Regions from separate parts of the Homo sapiens genome. Here region 2 is linked to region 1. The links come from fine-mapping of genetic effects on gene expression. Tissue or cell type: prefrontal cortex. Region 1 holds a variant in brackets; the other region holds the start of a gene. All regions are shown on one strand. Distances are from middle to middle.

What was found. PIP is the estimated chance that this variant, and not a neighbour inherited with it, causes the effect.
Region 2: it holds the start of CELF2-DT, and the variant in region 1 is the best candidate, but not a certain one, in a credible set for the expression of CELF2-DT in prefrontal cortex (CommonMind, PIP 0.71).

Annotation. Positions count from the first base shown.
Region 1 is chr10:10,486,059-10,495,576 of GRCh38, forward strand. It overlaps a transcript of CELF2 not described here. Among named protein-coding and RNA genes, the nearest start is that of CELF2-DT, 28 kb to the left of the region's middle. The variant A/AAT (reference allele first, on the strand shown) is at 6,404.
Region 2 is chr10:10,459,293-10,469,079 of GRCh38, forward strand. CELF2-DT (CELF2 divergent transript) reads right to left here and starts at 3,057. Exons shown (of 4, transcript NR_120637.1): 1 at 2,897-3,057. It also overlaps a transcript of CELF2 not described here.

The DNA.
Region 1 (9,518 bases):
ATGGCATTCAGATATTGAAGAAATGCTACAGCCTCTCCAGTAGTATGTTCTTTATTCTCCCGGAAATGTCAATGAGGCTCCAAGAGCCTGTGGTAGAGGTGGAAATGGTGGTCTTCATTCTCAAGCTTCTAAATCTAGACTGGAAAAAGCACTAAGGAAAACAATCAACAGATAATACAAACACCAGTAAAGAACTCCAACCTTTTCCTTTTCTCACTGGTTAATTAAACCCACACAGGAATGCAAGTGCACATAGAAAGGCTTAGAAACTGGCCCCATAATGATTTTAATACCATGATTTAATTTGTGATCTAGAGAGAGCAACTGCTAAACATCAGAGCTCAAATGAGTCTTCTCTAATAAATTGCATTTTTTGTCTTCATACAAAAGTAACTTTTACATTTTACACCATTGCATGCTATTTACTATTCATTATACAGCAGGTTGAGTATTCCGTATCTCAAAAGCTTGGGACCCAATGTGTTTCAGATTTTTGGCCTTTTATTATGGGGAGAGTTTTGTCATATTTGCATTATACTTACCTGATTGAGCACTCCAAACCTGAAAATCTGAAATCTGAAAAGCTCCAATGGGCATTTCCTTTGAGCGTCATGTCAGTGGTGATCAAAACGTTTTGAACTGTGGAGCATTTTGGATTTTCAGATTTAGAATGCTCAACCTATATTGGATTTTGAAAAGTAATCTAGATAAACATTCTTGGGTTTGTTGTCCTGGAGTTTGTACCCTAACTTAGGAAGCCATTGACATGTGTTAAAAGCAGAAGGATCTAATGATGATGGAGAAGACTCAGTCCACTAAAGGTCAGGAAAGGCAAAAAGGGAGCAGAGAGGAATTACTATAAAAAGCTCAAAGCAGCAATTTGACATTTATCTTCCTATCCCATCTCTTCATTCCCCTAGTATAAAATTAAATTTCCCTGTCCATCGTATATGCCTAGGGGTGTGTTTCACTTGCATAGAGAATGTAGAAGCATTTTATGCTTAAAGGTATCAGGACAAGTAGACATGTTTCAGAATAGACATCTTGCTGGCTTCCTATGATTTCTGTGATGGCTCTCAGCAAATGGGGATGCTGCAATGTCTTCTTTTGTCCTTTCAAGACAGCTCTTCTTGGATCGTGTATTCTACTTTGTTACTATTATTATTAGATATTAGTTGCCAATGTTTTACTTATAGCACAGTTGTAAAATTTAAATTGTAGAATGGCCAAGTGGCCACGTCAGAGGTCAGAGCAGCATGAAGGCTGGGAGGTTATTTACAATCAAAAGCTTCCCTCTCTTAAGTTACATCTCAGCCATTTACAAAGCCAAACAGCAGCCTGGTTGATTTTGTCTTGCATGGATTGGACTGGTTCTAAAGCTTTGTACATTAAATCCCAGGAATTTTAAATCAAACACACTACAGTATGTTTTTCTGCATTATTAACTGTGGATAGTTTTACCCTGGCTTTTTCATGACGTCCATGACCCCATCCTTCCATTGGGTATTACAATATCGCCTGTGAAAAGAAAAAAATGCTTTGACTCTTTCTTCACCTTTGGAAGTTTCATAACCAAAACCTTATACTTTGATGCATATTTGAGAAGATGTTGAAATTATACTAGACAATTTAACTGGTAAATTCCAGTGGAATTGTTAAGAAATAATATATCCACATTTATACCAAATTAATGCATCACGATTAAAGGTCTTAAAATGAATACCAAATGAATTAGTAATGGTGGTCTTTGTGCTTAACCCTTTAAATTGTATAAAAATATATCTGTATCAAATAGTTGAACATAAGAATGAGAAATTGAAGTTAGTAGTATTTGTAATCCAAAGATTGCAAATGTTATTAGGGTTCTTTTGTTTAATAATGCATAATCATTACATAATCATTATGTGATCATTACATGATTGTTACATAAAAATGTAACAGTGAAAGCCAATATATTATTAATGGAATGAGCTAATTTCAACAGTTCATGAGAAAACAAAAGTCCCCAAAGTGAAAATAAACTTGTCATGTTCTATAACCATAAAACATTAATTTTGATAAATCAAATGTAACTAACTTGATTTATAATTTATTTTGAAGTATTAGTTAAGGATATCCTTATTATATTGCCTTTTCAATGCAATCTAATGGAGTAGTAATCCCAATCCTTATTTGGAAATCAATATAGCGATGAAAACAAACGACTGAACTAGTGAAAGAGTTGAAAACATGAGTCAGACAAATCAAACTTCAAATTCTAGGAGAGCTACTTGTTCTGTGACCTCATCAGATTATTTAATTTCCCTATGTGTCAGTTTCCTCATCTGCAACAAAGAAGCTGGAAATACTTGCCTGATAGACTTGTGTTCATGGACAGAAGAGGTGATTTGTGGAGAATGCTTAGCATACCTGGTACCTAGCTGTATTGAATCTTTATTCAGTATTAGCTATAACTTATAAGCTACAAAAACACTTCATGTGTATTTGCTCACTTAATCATGTATTTTACTAATATCTTCCTCATTTTATAGACAAGAAACTAATGCACAAGGAGATTAATTGCTCAAGAAATGGCAGGTATTATTATTACCATATTTCTACACTTTTATTCTCTTTTCTACTCTTTCTCAACAGAGATTTGTTTGTATAATGATGGTATTAAGAAACATAACAGGTATAGCCTTAAAAACTGATAACATTAATTTGACATAGCAAATTAACGTAGATGTTAAACTGAAGTACATTCATTATCAAATCTTTCCATTCTTTTCCTTCAAGGTTTGAAAAACCGTATAACCAATGCAAGAAGGAGCTTGGGATCAAAATCCTGACTCCAAAATCCCCAACAGAGACACAAAGAACAACATGTCTGAACACCCTCCTCTACTGAAAGTGGCAAAATTTAGAGTAGGGAATGGTGATAGTGGCCAGCTTAATTTCCTCCAAGCAAGGCTATGGAGAATCTTCCATTAAATATCAATGTAATTTCAGCGAATGCGGTTCTGATACACATCTCAAACACCCAGCCCTGTAAAGTGCTGTCAAGAAGCTCTAGACATCTCACTGATGAACATTTTCACACCAACTTCTTCACCAAAAAAAAACTTCCCATAACCTACACCCTACAGAACTTAATACTGAAGGATAATAATGACTCAACCTAACAAAAATGAAACCTCACTTCTCTAAAGGATTTTTCTTAGAGAGTCCAGATATGTTAGTCCTGTCGTCACCTTCATCCAGAAGGACAAACAGCCCTGGGATTTCCAAATTGTAACTGGAACAGTGCTGGTACATTTGTAGCATAATGAGAGTCTTCATCACTGATAATTTTAAAACTAGACTACATTTTTCAGTGTCAGCTCCGTCTAGTACTGATTGTTTTGGCAGTGTCCGATCATATTGTATTTTTCATGTTTCTTCATTTCTTAGTGTTATTTAATCATTTCAATTAGCTCTCCCATTTGTTCACATAACTCAGTGAGTATACGGTGTATATTAGAAATGAATTCAATTTTGATTCTTATATGTCAGTCAAAAATAGCAACTGCAACTACAGATGATTGCTTAGGCATGAGAGACCTATACTTTGGGGCAATGCTTTGGATTTTTAATATTCTGGAGCAATTTTATAAAGTAGTCCATTAATTATTTGAGAGTGATGTGTGCTAATATATCCTGTGTGGCCTATCCTTAAAACAAAACGTGACGAAAATCAGCAAAATGGTAAGATTTCAGGTGGAGTTGACAATTTCAAGCAAACAACCTCATGAACTCTAGAATTCCAGAAAAATAACTTTTCCATTCACATTTTTAAATTAAGAATCTATGTGAGTACAGGTTTGGGGGGAGGGTGGGTGGATTTCTATGCATCATGCAGAAGGAACACATATTTGTGTAACTTACAGAGATTCAGATGTCAGAAGGAAAGATGCAGAGTACTTTATGGCATGACTAACATAAACCTTTGTTATTTATCTGAAACATCACATTTGATTATTCTTCCAGTAAAATTCTCTGGAATGTCATGGGGGAAAAAATCACTCCTATCATGTCATAAACTAATGACAACTAAAATACCATTTGTAACAGTAACAGAACTCTTTAGGCTTGCCTAAATATCAGATTTAGCCTAAATACCAGATTTAGGCAAATTTTGCCTAAATTAGAAACAATCCTATTATTCGAAGAGATAGGAAATGAAAAACTACAGTTGGAAATTTGGTTTTAAGGCTTGCAAAATTGTCATGAGCAGAAATCACTGTTTTCCTTTATCACATGGCATCTGCCAAGTCTGCCTAATGTGATTCTGTGGAAAATGCCTTTGTCCAGGAATGTCTTATTATGGTTACTTTTTTGGACTTCATTCAGCCAAATGCACTAAAGGATATTCACTGCAGAGTCAAACCTGTCTGTGATGATTTTGGAGGAAAAGGGGTATTTTTAAAGAGGCAAAAGTGCCCTCTCTGTCATCCCAGAGATTATCATTTATAATCTAATCTATCTGGTTGGGGGGGGGTGGAGCATGTGCACAATAGGCTGGAAATTATTCACAGATATTAATGTAAACACAGGTACACACACATTACATAAAATAAAGAAGAGCAGAAAAAAGTGAAGAACATAGGGATATGAGGATAGGTTACAAATGAGCATAAGCCCCTAGACTGGGAGTGGTCATTTCTTTCCCCATGTCTAAACCCCGCTAAGTAAACAGCCTTCTTCCCACATGAATACCAAGATAAAAAAGGTTGACCCAAATTGCCCAAGGGAGTTAATAATGGCTACTTGGGATTAAAGACAAGCTTCTATACAAATGGAAGAGTTTTACAGCCAGAGATATTTCACCTCCAAAAGATGTCAAACTACAAATGAGAAGGTCACATAAAAACAGCATTAGAGGAGCAAATGGTATGAAGTTTTCACTTAATTGGTTATTGTTTCCCAGTGACTATTGTAAGAAAAACCACTACTATATAAATGTCTGTAGGGAATGGACTAAGGAAAACTTAAATCTGATCGCAGCTAGAAAACCACTGATTCCTCCTCCTCTGAACCAGCTTAGCTCCCTCAAGGTCAAAGTTAGAGGAACTTACTTGGCAAAGAGGTTTCCCTAGCAAAGCACACAAATGAGTCTAGGTACTTCAATCCAGCCCCTTTCACTGACATTAAAATCTATTCAATATATTTTTTTCAGTGTGTTTCAAAAACTTCATCCAGACACACTGAATAGATGCAGAATTGTCTTGCACAGAAATTATACTTGTTTGCATAGCATATCCATTCTAAAATATGACTAAATGAGGTTTCCTGCAGTATGTGCACTAGAAATAGTTTTGAATTCATTTGGTGCTCTTTGCCTCTTGCTCTTTGGTATCTTCAGGAAGATAATCTTCATTCTAATTGTTCTTACAAACATACGCTGGCAGCCCTGTGTTTTCCTAAATATGGGTGGCTCCTGGACTGTATAGCTAATCTTAGGGTTTTCTCAGCTCAACTGCATGAAGCCCATTGTTACAAACTGTGGGTATTAATTTTCTTACTTTCATGATGGAGCATTCATGAATTCTTTTAGAATGTGAATTCCTATCTCTAATCTCTGAAACAAAAAGTTTGTGTTGCATTCAAACCCAAAGCCAGTGAAATCTTTGTGCTCAGTTAAATAGTCAATTCAGTTAAGCCACATTGACAAAAGTGGTTCATCTAGCTGGTGCCAGTAACCAGCTAGTTGTCTATGTCTTTCTTGTCCTGACTTTCTCCACCACGTCTAAAGAACATCTTTTTAACTGCATTTGTTGTTACATACAAGCCCAAATGATCGTCTTTTCATAAACATGATCTTTTCTTATACATGAGATCCTTTTTTGCCAGGTCTTTTTTCCTTTCTTCTTGAATGCCCCATCCCTCTCTTTCCCACTTTCCCATTTTCTTACCCCTCTTCCTCCCGTCCTCTCACTTCTTGTGCTATTCCATTCTCCATCCCTTCCCAGTTAACTCAGTAATTTAGGATTTATTCTATTTTTAATTTTCTTTCATGTCAGAGACTAGTTATTGGTGATGCCAGATCACCAACATCATTAAGCACTTGACTGTACTTCTCTGAAAATCTCTGCAGTTCATCCTCTGTCCTCTTCCACAACAGACAGCCTCTGATCACATCTCCATCTCTAATCCGTTTGCACAACAGCTCAAATCCAGCCTTGCCCCTCTTTTCCATTCTCCTCAGAGCAGGAAATGAGTTCTCTAAACCAAGCTGATTAGTCTGTCTCTCCAGGATAGCAATAGGAGATATACCTAATGTAAATGATGAGTTAATGGGTGCAGCACACCAACATGGCACATAGATATATATGTAACAAACCTGCACGTTGTGCACATGTACCCTAGAACTTAAAGTATAATA[A/AAT]ATATATATATATGCAAGCTGCACTTGGAAAGCAGACAAAAGTATGGCGGTTCTTCCAAAAAAATAAACCATGGAACTACCATATGATCTAGCAGTTTCACTTCTGAGTACATAGCCAAAGGAATTGAAAGCAAGAAACTGAAGGGAGATTTGTCCACCCACGTTTACAGCAGCATTATTCACAATAACAAAAAGGTGGAAGTAACCCAAGTGACCACCATAAACAAAAAGTGACATATAAATACAATGAAGTATCAGTTACTGAAATGGTTTGGCTGTGTCCCCACCCAAATTTCATCTTGAATTGTAGCTCCCATAATTCCCACATGTTGTGGGAAGGACCTGGTTGGAGATGACTGAATCATGGGGGCAGTTTCCCCCATACTGTTCTCATGGTAGTGAATAAGTCTCATGAGAGCTGATGGTTTGATAAGGGGAAATCCCTTTCACTTGGTTCTCATTCTCTCTCTTGCCTGCCACCGTGTAGTAAGACGTGCCTTTCACCTCCTGCCGTGATTGTGAGGCCTCCCCACCCATGTGGGACTGTGAGTCCATGAAATCTGTTTTTCTTTACAAATTAGCCAGTCTCAGGTATGTCTTTATTAGCAGCATGAGAACAAACTGATACGGTCACCCTCTAAAGGAAGGACATTCTGACACATGTTACAACATGGATGAACCTTGAGGACATTATGCTAAGTGGAATAAGCCAATTACAAAATAACAAATACTGTACGATTTTTCTTAAATGAGGCACTAGAGTAGTCAAATTCACAGAAACAGAAAAGTAGAATGGTGATTGCCAGGGTCTGGGGAGAGGGGGCATGGATGGCTATGGGCGAATAGGTGCAGAGTTTCAGTTTTGCAAGATGGAAAAAGTTCTGGAGATGCATGGTGGAGACGGTTCCACAAAGGTATTAATGTACTTCATGCCACTAAACTGTACACCTAAAAATGGTCAAAATGGTAAATTTTATATATACTTTACCAAAAAAAAATAAGTTTCACAGCCTTTAGCAAAAGCCCAAATTCTTTTTTTGTTTGTTTGGATTTTGGGCGTTTTTTTTTTGTTTGTTTCTTTTTTTCTTGAGATGGAGTCTCACTCTGTTGCCCAGGCTGGAGTGCAGTGGCATGATCTAGGCTCACTGCAGCCTCCGCCTCCCAGATTCAAGCAATTCTCCCACCTCAGCCTCCTGAGTAGCTGGGATTACAGGTGCCTGACACTACATACAGCTAATTTTTGTATGTTTTGTAGAGAGAGGGTTTCACCACGTTGGCCAGGCTGGTCTCAAACTCCCGACCTCAAGTGATCCACCCGCCTCGGCCTCCCAAAGTGCTGGGATTACAGGCCTGAGCCACCGTGCCCAGCTGCAAAAGCCCAAACTGTTTAACAAGCGGTAGGCTGCTCTGTGCCCATCCCTTTGAGTCTGGATCATAATGTTGTTCTCTGCCTAGAAAGTACCATTTTGCCAACCTGCCTCTAACCTTCCCCTGACCATCCAAAGCAGAAGATGTGCTGTCTCCCCGGTGACCTCATGGTTCTTTGTTCTCAGGGGCCCTGAAGTGTTTCCAGGGTAAAATCTCTGAGAAGTTTACACTAATGTCTCTCCCAAGAGAGGCTGACTGCCTCCAAAGCACAGCAGTCTTTGCCTGGCACGGAATGAATGCTTCACAAACAGTGAATTAATGAATACATTTCAGCCTGAACCATGTAGACCACGCTGCAGGAATCACTCTCTCTCCAGTTTATGATGTTTCCTTTCAAAGGAAGGGATGAAAAGGTAGCAGCCTCAAGATCAATGGAGCAGGGTTTTGAAATACTGGAATTCAGAATGTTTTCCTGTAAAGTTGAATTTCTAATAACACATGGACATTTTCTTTTAGTAGGCTTTGTTACTGAATGGTAGAATATGAAGGGTAACTCAACATCTTTGACTATTCCCACTCAGAGAAATGGGCATTCTGAGAAATAGCAGAGCGCATTACAAGTTCTCTTAATACTGTAGCCAGTTGCTTTCCAATAAATGGTGTTTTACATACGGGAAGAACAAGACATAGAAAAACTGATTGGTTTGTTCTAATTAACAAAAAGGAAAGCAATAAATATATGATAAGGAGATTTGACATTTTCTTCCTCAGATCATTTTTTTATACACATGTTAGACACCCTCAGCATAATCTTCTTCAGTGAAGCTCTTCTCTTAAACCAATCACAGAGGGTTTTTTGAGCATCTGTTCTGTGTTCATCATTGTACCTGATCTTAGAGTTTCTCATCTAAATGCCATATTCACTATCAAAGGCCTCTATAAAAAATAATATGATTAGACTCTGGGATTTGATGTCTCAGATAAAAATTAATATGAATCTACATACAACAAAAGGTCCAAATTAAGCTAAATGACAGTAGAGAAAATCAAGCTAGGGTGGATTGGGATACCACTGCTTGGGCTATTTTAAGTTAATATTAGCCTATAAGCAATTAAAGACTGAATTGAAAGTCCACTGTGTCCCATCAAAAATTTACCTCTTTGTGGCCAGGTGCAATGGTTCATGCCTGCAATCCCAGCACTTTGGGAGGCCGAGGCGGGCAGATCATGAGGTCAGGAGATCGAGACCATCCTGGCTAACATGGTGAAACCCCGTCTCTACTAAAAAAAAAATGCAAAAAATTAGCCAGGCATGGTGGCGGGCGCCTGTAGTCCCAGCTACTCGGGAGGCTGAGGCAGGAGAATGGCGTGACCAGAAGGCGGATGTTGCAGTGAGCTGAGATGGTGCCACTGCACTTCAGCCTGGGCGACAGAGCGAGACTCTATCTCAAAAAAAATTTACCTCTTTGTAAACAAGAACATCAAAAAGAGTTCATATTATGTATGGAACATTAAACAGCTGTGAGTCATATCTTTGAAGAGTTCTGTGGCCTTACCATGATGTATGTGGACAGAAGAATGGCTGTTTGGGTGTTTCCACCCAATATTTAGACATTGCCCCTTTACTAGGAACTAGTGGAGAACTTAAGGTTACTAAAGAAAACTCATGTAGAGGACCTCAAGGGTGCCTTAAACATCATCCACACTTTCATCCCTGTCCTCTCTACCTGAACAGCCACAGGGTCCG
Region 2 (9,787 bases), 27 kb before region 1:
TTTATTAGACAGTATGATACTGCCCAAAAGACAAAACAGTAAAATTACACTGAAGACAGTTGACTCATAATGAGGAATACATTTATCAAAAAGTAATAATTTTAATATATGCAAGAAGTTTGAAAATGATATTTAATTATCAGTTATAACTGGAAAGACTAAGATGTATTGATTTGATACAGCTTTTAAAAAATGAATTAGCGTTTCCCACCTCGATATTTTCTCTGAGCATGAAAATTTAAATAGCATATGACAATATGCCAATTCCAAGAAGTTCTTTAAAATATATCTCCAGGAAACTTGTTCAGTGTATTTCTTTAAAACACATCTCCATGATGTGAAAGCCACCTAAATGTGTATCACTCCACAGAATGCCCTAACAATTTAGTGGGATATTTATTTTTGAAGTGGATTTTTTTTCCAGTATGGCTGTGAGATATGTAATATATTGCTTAATCTCTCCAGCACCAAGTAAAATTCTCTGAAATAATAGGTTAAATATCTAGTGGAATCACATGTCTCACACATTTGCTAAAACCTAGTTGACATTAGCCAAACAAAAATGTCCCTTCTCTTAAGTTTAATGTCAGGGTTATTTTATTTTAATTCAAATTAACATTCTCCCATAATCCCAGGACTTTGGGAAGCTGAGGTAGGAAGTTATCTTGCGACCAGTAGTTTGAGACCTGCCTGGGCAACACAGGCCCCTATCTCAACAAAAAATGAAATAAAGAATTAGCAAGCATGGTGGTGTTCACCTGTAGCCCCACCTTCACAGAAGGCTTGAGCCCAGGATTTTGAGGCTGTAGTGAGCCATTATCATGTCACTACACTCCAGCCTGGGTAACAGAGTGAGACTCAGTCTCTTAAAAAATTAATATTTTTCTAACTGAACTCAATAAACATTGATGAACATAAAAGTATTATTTCTTCATTTAAAATAGACATTCAGAATATAAACCAGTATGTGCCACTCTGTATATTTTGATATTCCCTAACATGTTCTAAGTATGTTATGTTCAAAATTATACCAAAGTAACTAATATTGGCAAATTAGTCATATTTGTAGTAAGATATTTTTTAAGTCATTACTTTATTTTCAGGTTTGTTTTTTTTTTTTTTTTTGTCCAGAACTAGTCTTAAAAGAGAAAGGATTGAAAGAATGCCACTTAATTGTAGAATGCTTCAGGAAAATAAAATCTCTCTTCAATTAAATCTTTTGAAATAATCTATGCATAGCACTTTCCAAGCCAAGGCATGGGTTGTTTCGTTGCATCTTATGCTATGACAAAGTCCTATAATTAGCACATTGGTGTAATCTACCACTGTTTCATTAAAGCTGATTGCATAACTATTTGGGAAGTTAACATGGCTTCTTGAGTACTTGACCTGCCCTTTTTTTTTTTCTATGCTACAGCTGTTAGTAGGAAGTGAGCAAAGGCATTCATTGCTGAACAGTAGTAGAGAAATAATCCTGGTAAAGGTTATAATACAAGACAAAGATGGAGTTTCACTCTGTGCATCTCAGACCTTTCCATTTTTAATTGGTTTGGTTTTTTGATGAGACCTCAAATGACAGAACAAATATTTGACAGCTAAATTTTTACCAATTTAAAAAGTGAACTCATATTTATTTAAATTACATTTTTAATCATTTATCTTTTGAAAGTCTGATTTTTAAAAGTGAAATGCATTAAAGCAGTGCGTCCTTGAATTTAAGAGGTTCTGCAAGTTGTGCAGAAATGGTGAAATCCATTTAAATGGCTTGAGGTAGGGATAAGAGGTAAATAATAGTTTATTTTAAAAAGTAGATTAAGCACAATCATGTTATCAAGAGTAACTCTCTTCTGTGTCTTTGGCCACTGTTGAAGAACTGTGTACAATTATATATTTTACTCCTTAGCAACCCACCCCCAGCTATGGGACATGACACATCAGTCAGCATGGTCCTCTCAAGTTAGGGTAGTCGGATGATCAGAGAAAAATCCAGACTTGCATAGGAGCACCAATGCCATAAACCTTCATAAAAGCAGTGCTTCAGATCAAGAGGCAACTTTATAGATGTTCCCTACTACAACAGTCTTCCGATAGCTTTAATACTGAAGTAGTCGCTAACACACTCGTCTGAAAAGAGCATTTAGAAAAGAACAACAACACACACAAAAAAAACCTTGTTGAAAATTCTGCACAAGCAATTTACATCCTGACAGAAGAAGGATGGGGTTTATTCTCTTTCATAATTCCTCTGCTACACACTCGCAATACCCTGCACGTTAAGTATCAGGTTTTTCTTGCTAAAATTAAAGCGGTTTTCTATAGGAGACACCTTAGGTAAAATTGGCAATGGAGACCAAGTTTATTTCCATTATTTTTAGTTATTTGCACAATACATAAATACGAAAATAAACTTCTTGCATTTCGTTGTGGAGACTTTTTCATTTGAATATTTCATCCTTCCTAGAAGTTTCTGGGGTTGATGGGACCTTCATCCTAGGCCCTCTGTCCCTTAAACTATTCTTAGTATGATGCACCTCCCTGTAGCCCTCCCACCATCCCCAAAAAAAGAAAGAGTCAGAGCAGAAGTGGAAACCTTACTAATCTTGGTATTTCCATCTCTATATTCCCAGAAATTTCAGTGTTTAGGAATTAAAGGAAAAGACAGGAAAGAATGTGTTTTGGAGCAGGAGACAGGAACAGTAAGAAATGCACAAGATGTCACTAAACTGTCATAGTAAAAATAGTGTTAATAATTATAGATGTTTAGAAAAAGAAAAAAAATTACACCCCAAACAGAAATCAAACCCAACATCATGTACTATGGTGTATCAATTAAAATGAATGGGAGTTACATGCAAATACCTCAAATAAAATACCTCAAATAAAAAATGTAGAATACCTTTCCACTGATGATTTTTAGTTGTCAGGACAAGTGAGACCCAAACAGCAGACAGAATGGTCCCAGCATGCTTGTTGCCTTTTTTTGTTTGCACAGTGGCTGTCAGTTCCAGCCTTGCAGGTAGTGGAACCCAGCCGGAAGAAGGGGCGGGACCCAGCATTGCAGCCTGAACTGAGAGCAAATTTAAATTACTGAGCCTTTTTTTTCCTTTTTTTATTTTTCTACTCTGCGACAAACTGAAAAGATTCCAGCACGCTAATTTAACCACCCTGCTTCTTCTTTGCCTTTTTTTTTTTTTTTGATTTTTTTTTTTTTTCTCTCCCTGCTTCTAGGATAATTAAAAGAGAAACCTGTAAAAGGCAACATTCCTGTGAGCGAGTTGGTGCTGCAACGTGCTGGTAAGAAAACGAGTTTAATTTTTTTCATCTTTTTTTTTTTTTTTTTTTTTTTGCTTTTTCTTTTTTTAAAGAGCTGAAGGCTTTGTCTGTCTAATGCAGTCATAAGCGTGGCTTCCCTGCCGTGAGGGGTTAGCGTATAATGAAAAGGTGTAATAGCCTGATGTACGACCTTCGCGTCATACTTATAATGGTTAATAACAGCATTCCTGTCTACCCCGATGATGCTTCTCTCTGCAAATGGACTATTTGCCCAGTTGCAACAGGGCTAAGATTGTCGCACTATGACAATGAGTTGTTGATTGTTTGGAGTTGCGGTGTCCTGTCAGAAAGATTTCTTGACTTTCTCCAAGTTACTTCCTTCCAGGGATGTTACGGGTTTTAATAGGTACCTTGCAGACCATAACGAGTCTGCTGTTTACTCATCAAACAGGAAGTGCAATGATGAAACTTTTTTTTAAGGAATCCTAATTGTCTTAGACTTCCTTAGTTCAGATAATGAAACAGACTAAAGTGAGTGCTCAGTAAAGTCATTTTAATCCCTTTCATCTGTAACTAGTCAGGAGTTCATTAGCCAACTAAGAAGAACCTACATCATTTGCAGACCTTGTATTTGAGATGCTAACTTTGTTCCTCAAAAGGACAAATTTTTATTCAACCCAATTAAATTCAACAAGTATTTCTGTGTATACTCTGCCTGGAACGGCTGCTGAGAATGTGCTTGCCTGTTACTCTGTTGTGGGGGAATAACTGAAATTAGATAGTGTAAATTTTCAGCAACCAGATTTTCTTACTACCTTTAGCACTGACCAGATCACTTAAGACATTTCAGAATGTGTGACCGTTGGCTATAAGATAAAGTTCTCAAGGTTACATATCCTACAATCAACGAACTTCTGTTCTTTTTCTGCATGTAACTTTTGCTCATGTGAAAAATGCAACTCTGGCTACTATATTTTACATCACATCTTAATGTTATAAAGAAGAAAAAAACATAGACATCTCTTTTTTTGTACACTAAACATGTCATTTGAAAATATATCCATGTGTCAAACTTTGAGCTTATCCATATTTTAGCCTCAGAAGCAGGAAGACACACGGAGAGGTTTAGGCTTGTCAATGAGTCTGCTTGGATTTGGGTCAAGAAACTTAGGAACTACAATTTCTCTGTTTGTTTGGTTGTTTGTTTCCTTTAAAAGCACGTGTGAAACAGCAAGGAATACATTTTGCTTTCGCCCCATTGTTCTTTGTAAACTGGTGTAGTTTTTATTTTTTTATTTTTTGTCCTTTGGTTTTGAATAGATAACTAGAAATGTAATGGGGAGGTTGTCAAAAACAGAATGTAGTTACCAAATGTCCATTAAAACCTTTTTCTAAAAAAAAAAAAAAACTCCTATGGATTTTGAAGGTTGTATGCTATTTGCATCTTATAGAGAATGTGGCATTCCATACGCTGGTAACATTTGGTCTCGGGTCTCTATAGCTATTCTATCTAATTGTGTCGCTCTATATTTAACAGCTCTGAACCATGCCGCCCCTGGGTCCTCACCGGTGCCCCCAGAGCGCTTGAAATGTCTAAAAAGACCTTAGAACATTACAAAGTGTCAATTGTTAGAATAATTTCTGCCTCTTTACAACAAGAGAAAATGCTGTGGAGTTAATAGTTCATTTTTAAAGTCTGTTCTTATCCACCGGTAACTGTCTATTAGCAACATTTCAGTTATAATTGGAATAAATTGTTGCCCAGTAACAAGCGACTAACTCCTTAGCGACTTTCCATAGAATCAGTGACTAGAAATAGCTACAAAGAGCTAAACGCAAGTCAAACCACAGTACTTGTCTTTTTTTTTATTGTGGAAAAAAATTCATTTCTTTATAATTTTATCATTCTATTCTCAAATTTTCAAATTGAGGTGCCTCTTCTTTGTAATTTTCTAATTGACCAAAATCCCGTACGTGAAAAACAAAGGCCAATAGATCTTTGAAAATTTTTCCTTCTGGCTTAAAATAAGAAAGGATAAGCACAACCTCTCAGACTCTGAGTGTTAACAAGATTCTGAGCTAGCAACACCATTAAATGTGAAGAACTGCCATCATCTTTTGCAGAACGCAATGTAAAATTATGGGTTTCACTGTAGGACTCTGTCATTTGAACTAGTAATCAGTCCATAACACTATAGATTGCTGTAGTTAAAATGATGCTTTCCCCCATTAACAAAACATTGAATAACACTGAAATTATGTTAGTTAGATTTTACCCTATTTTTTCAATAGAGAGTCAGGAATAGCCCCAAATCCTTTTACCTAAGGATACGTAATATCAGTTTGTCTTTTCTTCTGCCCTCACTGAAGTGCTATGACATTACAGGCTCAAGAGAAAAATTTCTTAACAATAGTTCTGCATTTGCCATGAGCTCTTGCGGCATTTGGGAAGGATTTTCACCTTCTACTTGCACAGGTGTTGAAATAGAAAATACCTTCTGACGAGAATACACATTGTTATTTTACACACAGACATATGGACAAAAATATATATAATGCCAGAATAAACATTAAAGGCAACATGAAAGTATACGGATTGCTCCCTGAAAATACGACATTTGACAGTTGCTCAATTTATTATAAATGTTCACTGAGGATCAACTATGTGACAGGAAGTATATCAGAATCTTCAGGAAACAAGAAAAACGAAAAAGCCATGTCTTGGTCATCAGGGGAATTACAATGTAGTAAGAAATGCAGCAGGTAGACTAGAAAATGTAATTTGATTAATTAGTCTATGATGACCTTAGCATTGTATCAGGCTATTGGGATCAAGAAAAGTTGTAACTTTATTTCTGAGTGTCTGGAGCTGACATAATGTTTGCTTCTCTCATTTGCTTCAATTCTTCACCTATAGCCACACATGTTTTCTATTTCCTGTGTTTTTTGAAAAAATTCTTATGGATGTAAGTAGTCTTAACAGCTGTAATTTTTGTGTGTTTTTACTGTAAAATAAAAATGGGCAGGAAGCGCTGAATGGGGTGTCAGGAGGTATCAAGTCTCATTTCTCATCACCCACTGCCTTTGTCATTCATAATCTACTTAGTCCTCTATCCTCCTCATCTTTACAAAGAGGAAATGACCCCATCCAACACTATAATTCTTTTATTCCATCCTAGTGGAAGATGGGTAACTTGTAAGGAAAAGAGATGGTTATGGCGGGCTTGTCCACCTGTGGTTTAAACAAAATACAAGACAATTACCAGCTAACAAGCTCTAAGTCTTAACCTCTGTGTTCGTGTTGAATTGATGTGTGGTTATACCTGCCCCATGATTTTATACCTTCTGTTTTCTTCATTATCATGTTAATGCCCCCAAGACTGTAGAGGAAAATTGCAACAGAATAGTGAGTATATGTTGAGAATGCTGTTCTAGCATCTGTTCAAATGCTTCTTACATGTGATCCAAGAAACAAGAATGTCTTTCTCCTGAAACAACGTTGCATAATCTGATATTTCTATGTACCTTTTAAAGTACCGCTTGAGCAATCTGATGAGCTTTCATTGATTTATACACCTGTGAAGCCACAACAATCAAGCTGCAGAGAGTTTCCATTCGTACAAAAGTTTCTTGTGTCACTTTGACTCTTGCCTCCACACCTGGCCTTCAGACAGGCCTTCAGATTTGTATTCTGTCACTATAGATTAATTTACATTTTATAAAATGTCATATAAATGGAATTATGCAGTATGGATTTTGTGTCTGGCTTTTTCATTTTGCGTACTGACTTTCAGATTCATACATACTGTTGCATACATCAGTAGATTTTTTATTGCTGAGTAGTATTTCACTATATAAATAAGCAATAGTTTGTTCATCTGTTCACCTGTGGATGAACATTTGGGTACTTTCCATTTGGGAACTGTTATAAGTAAAGCTGTATGAATATTCATGTGCAAGCCTTAATGTAGGCATAGGTGTTTCTCTCAGGTAAACAGCTAGAATTGAAAAGGCTGGATCATATGGTAGAGATATGTTGAAATGTATAAGAAAAAACCCAGCAGTTTTCCAAAGTGGCTGTAACATTTGATACTTTCTCCCGCAATGTTGGAGAATTCCAGTTGCTGGGTATCTTTGCCAACATTTTGTGTATTGCCAGTCTTTTCAGTGTTAGCCATTCCAACGGGTATGTAGTATTAACTCGCTGTGGTTTTAATAAACCTTCCCTGAAATTGAATAATGTGGGGCATCTTTTCATGAACACATTGGCTTATGGTAAAGTATCTGTTCTAATATTTTGTCCAATTTTTATTGGGCTCCATGTGTCATCTTAATATTGAGTTGTAGGAGTTATTTTTTCTCCTGGATAGACATCTCTTTTCAGATGAGTGTATGGAATACATTTCCTCCCAGTATGTGACTTTCCTATTATTTTTAATGGTGTGTTTTCAAAGCACAATATACTTTCATTTGAATTAATCCAAATTACCAGTATACCACCAGTATACCAACATACCACAATATACCAATATACCACTTATAATATACTAGCATAAAAATTTATTTCACGGTTCATACTTTTTTGTGTGGACAAAGTGGAAATGCTAAGATTTTTCTCCTAAGTGCTTCTCTATAAATTTTATAATTTCAGTGTTCACACACAGTTATATCATGCATTTTGAGCTAATGTTTATGTTTAGTATGAAATAAAAACCAAGGGTCAATTTTTTTGTCATATGGAGAGCCAGTTGCTTCAGCACCATTACTAAAAAGACTATTCTTTACCCCCACTTAATTACCTTAGTTTATTTGTCAAAAATCACTTGACAGTAGGTGTGTTTGTCATTTTCTGGGATCTGTACCATGGATTTATACATTTATTCTTTCACTAGTTCCACATTGTATTGATTAGCTTTATAGTAAGTCTTGGAAAAAGATACTGTATATTCTCCAACTTTCTCTTTTTAAAAATTGCTTTGGCTCTTCTAAGTTCTCATTTTGATATAAATTTTAGAATTTGCTCATAAATATTTACCCCAGTAAAACTTCTGGTGAAATTTTTATTAGAATTGCATCGAATATAAATTCAACTTGTAAAATTGACATGTTAACTCTATTGAGTCCTCCATCCATAAACAATTTTTCTGTTGTTCCTCATTTATGTAGTTGTTCTTTAATTTCTTTAAGCAATGGATTGTAGTTTTTGGTACATAGGTATTTCACTATTGTTGTGAAATTTTTCCTAAATATTCAAGGGGACTTCAAGAAGGTCATGGAAAAACGGAATTGAAAGTTAAAAATAAAAAATGTAAACTTTATTTCTCAACATAAGCACCATCAAGGTCAAGAGACTTTTATAAGAAATGATACCAGCCACTTAGTTTATCTCTAAAGAACTGTGAATCCTGAGAATTTAACTGATGACAAGGCAACATGTTTTACACTATTAACTGAAGAAAAAATGGTGTCCTTTAAATAATTTTTAGGATTAGAAAACAAAAAGGCAGAAAGAGACAAATCAGGAATGCAAGGCAGATGCCTAATGACTTTCCACTGAAACTCTTGCAAAATTGTCCTTGTTTGAGAGGAATGAGCAGGAGCATTGTTTTGGTGAAGGACTCTATGATAAAGCTTTGGCGTTCTCTAAACACTCTTATACAATAAACAGATACTATCTTTCTTTGGCCCTCCACAAAGTCAACAAGCAAAATGGCTTGAGCATCCCCATAAAACTGTTGCCATGACCTTTGCTCTTGAGTGGTCTGCTTTTGCTGTAATTGGACCACTTTCACCTCCTGGTAGCCGTTGCTTTGGTTGTACTTTGTCTTCACGATCATACTGGTAAAGCCATGTTCCATCTCCTGTTACAATTCCTCAAAGAAATGCTTCAGAATCTTCATCCTACTTGTTTAAAAATTCTATTGAAAGCACTGCTGTTGATTGCTGTTGATCTGGATACAATGGTTTTGGCACCCATTGAGTGGAAAGTTTGCTCAACTTTAATTTCTTAGTCAGAATTGTGTAAGGTGAACCATTCGAGATGTCTATGGTGTTGGTTATTGCTCCTGCTGTGAATTGTTGGGCCTCTTCAACTAGGGCGTGAACAAGAAAAATGTTTTCTTCACAATTTGATGTGGACCATCTGCTGCTGTGGGTTTCATCCTCAACACTGTTCTCATCCCTCCTTTAAACAAGTTATCCATTTGTAAATTGTGAGTTTATGTGGGTAACTATCCCCATAAACTTTACATAAAGCATCAGTGATCTCATTCTTCCACCCAAGCTTCATTCTAAATTTGATGTTTGTTCTTTCTTCAGTTTTCATGGAATTCATGTTGCTCTAGTAGGGGCTCTTTTCAAACTCATCTTGTATCCTTTGTATGCCTCAAACTAGATCCTCTTCAGACGTTTTATAAAAAGTTAGTATGAACTTATTACAGTGCAAAAAAAATGGAAATCCATGCATAATGTTTTCATAATATGCATTTTTCATGAACACTTTGAAGACCCCTTG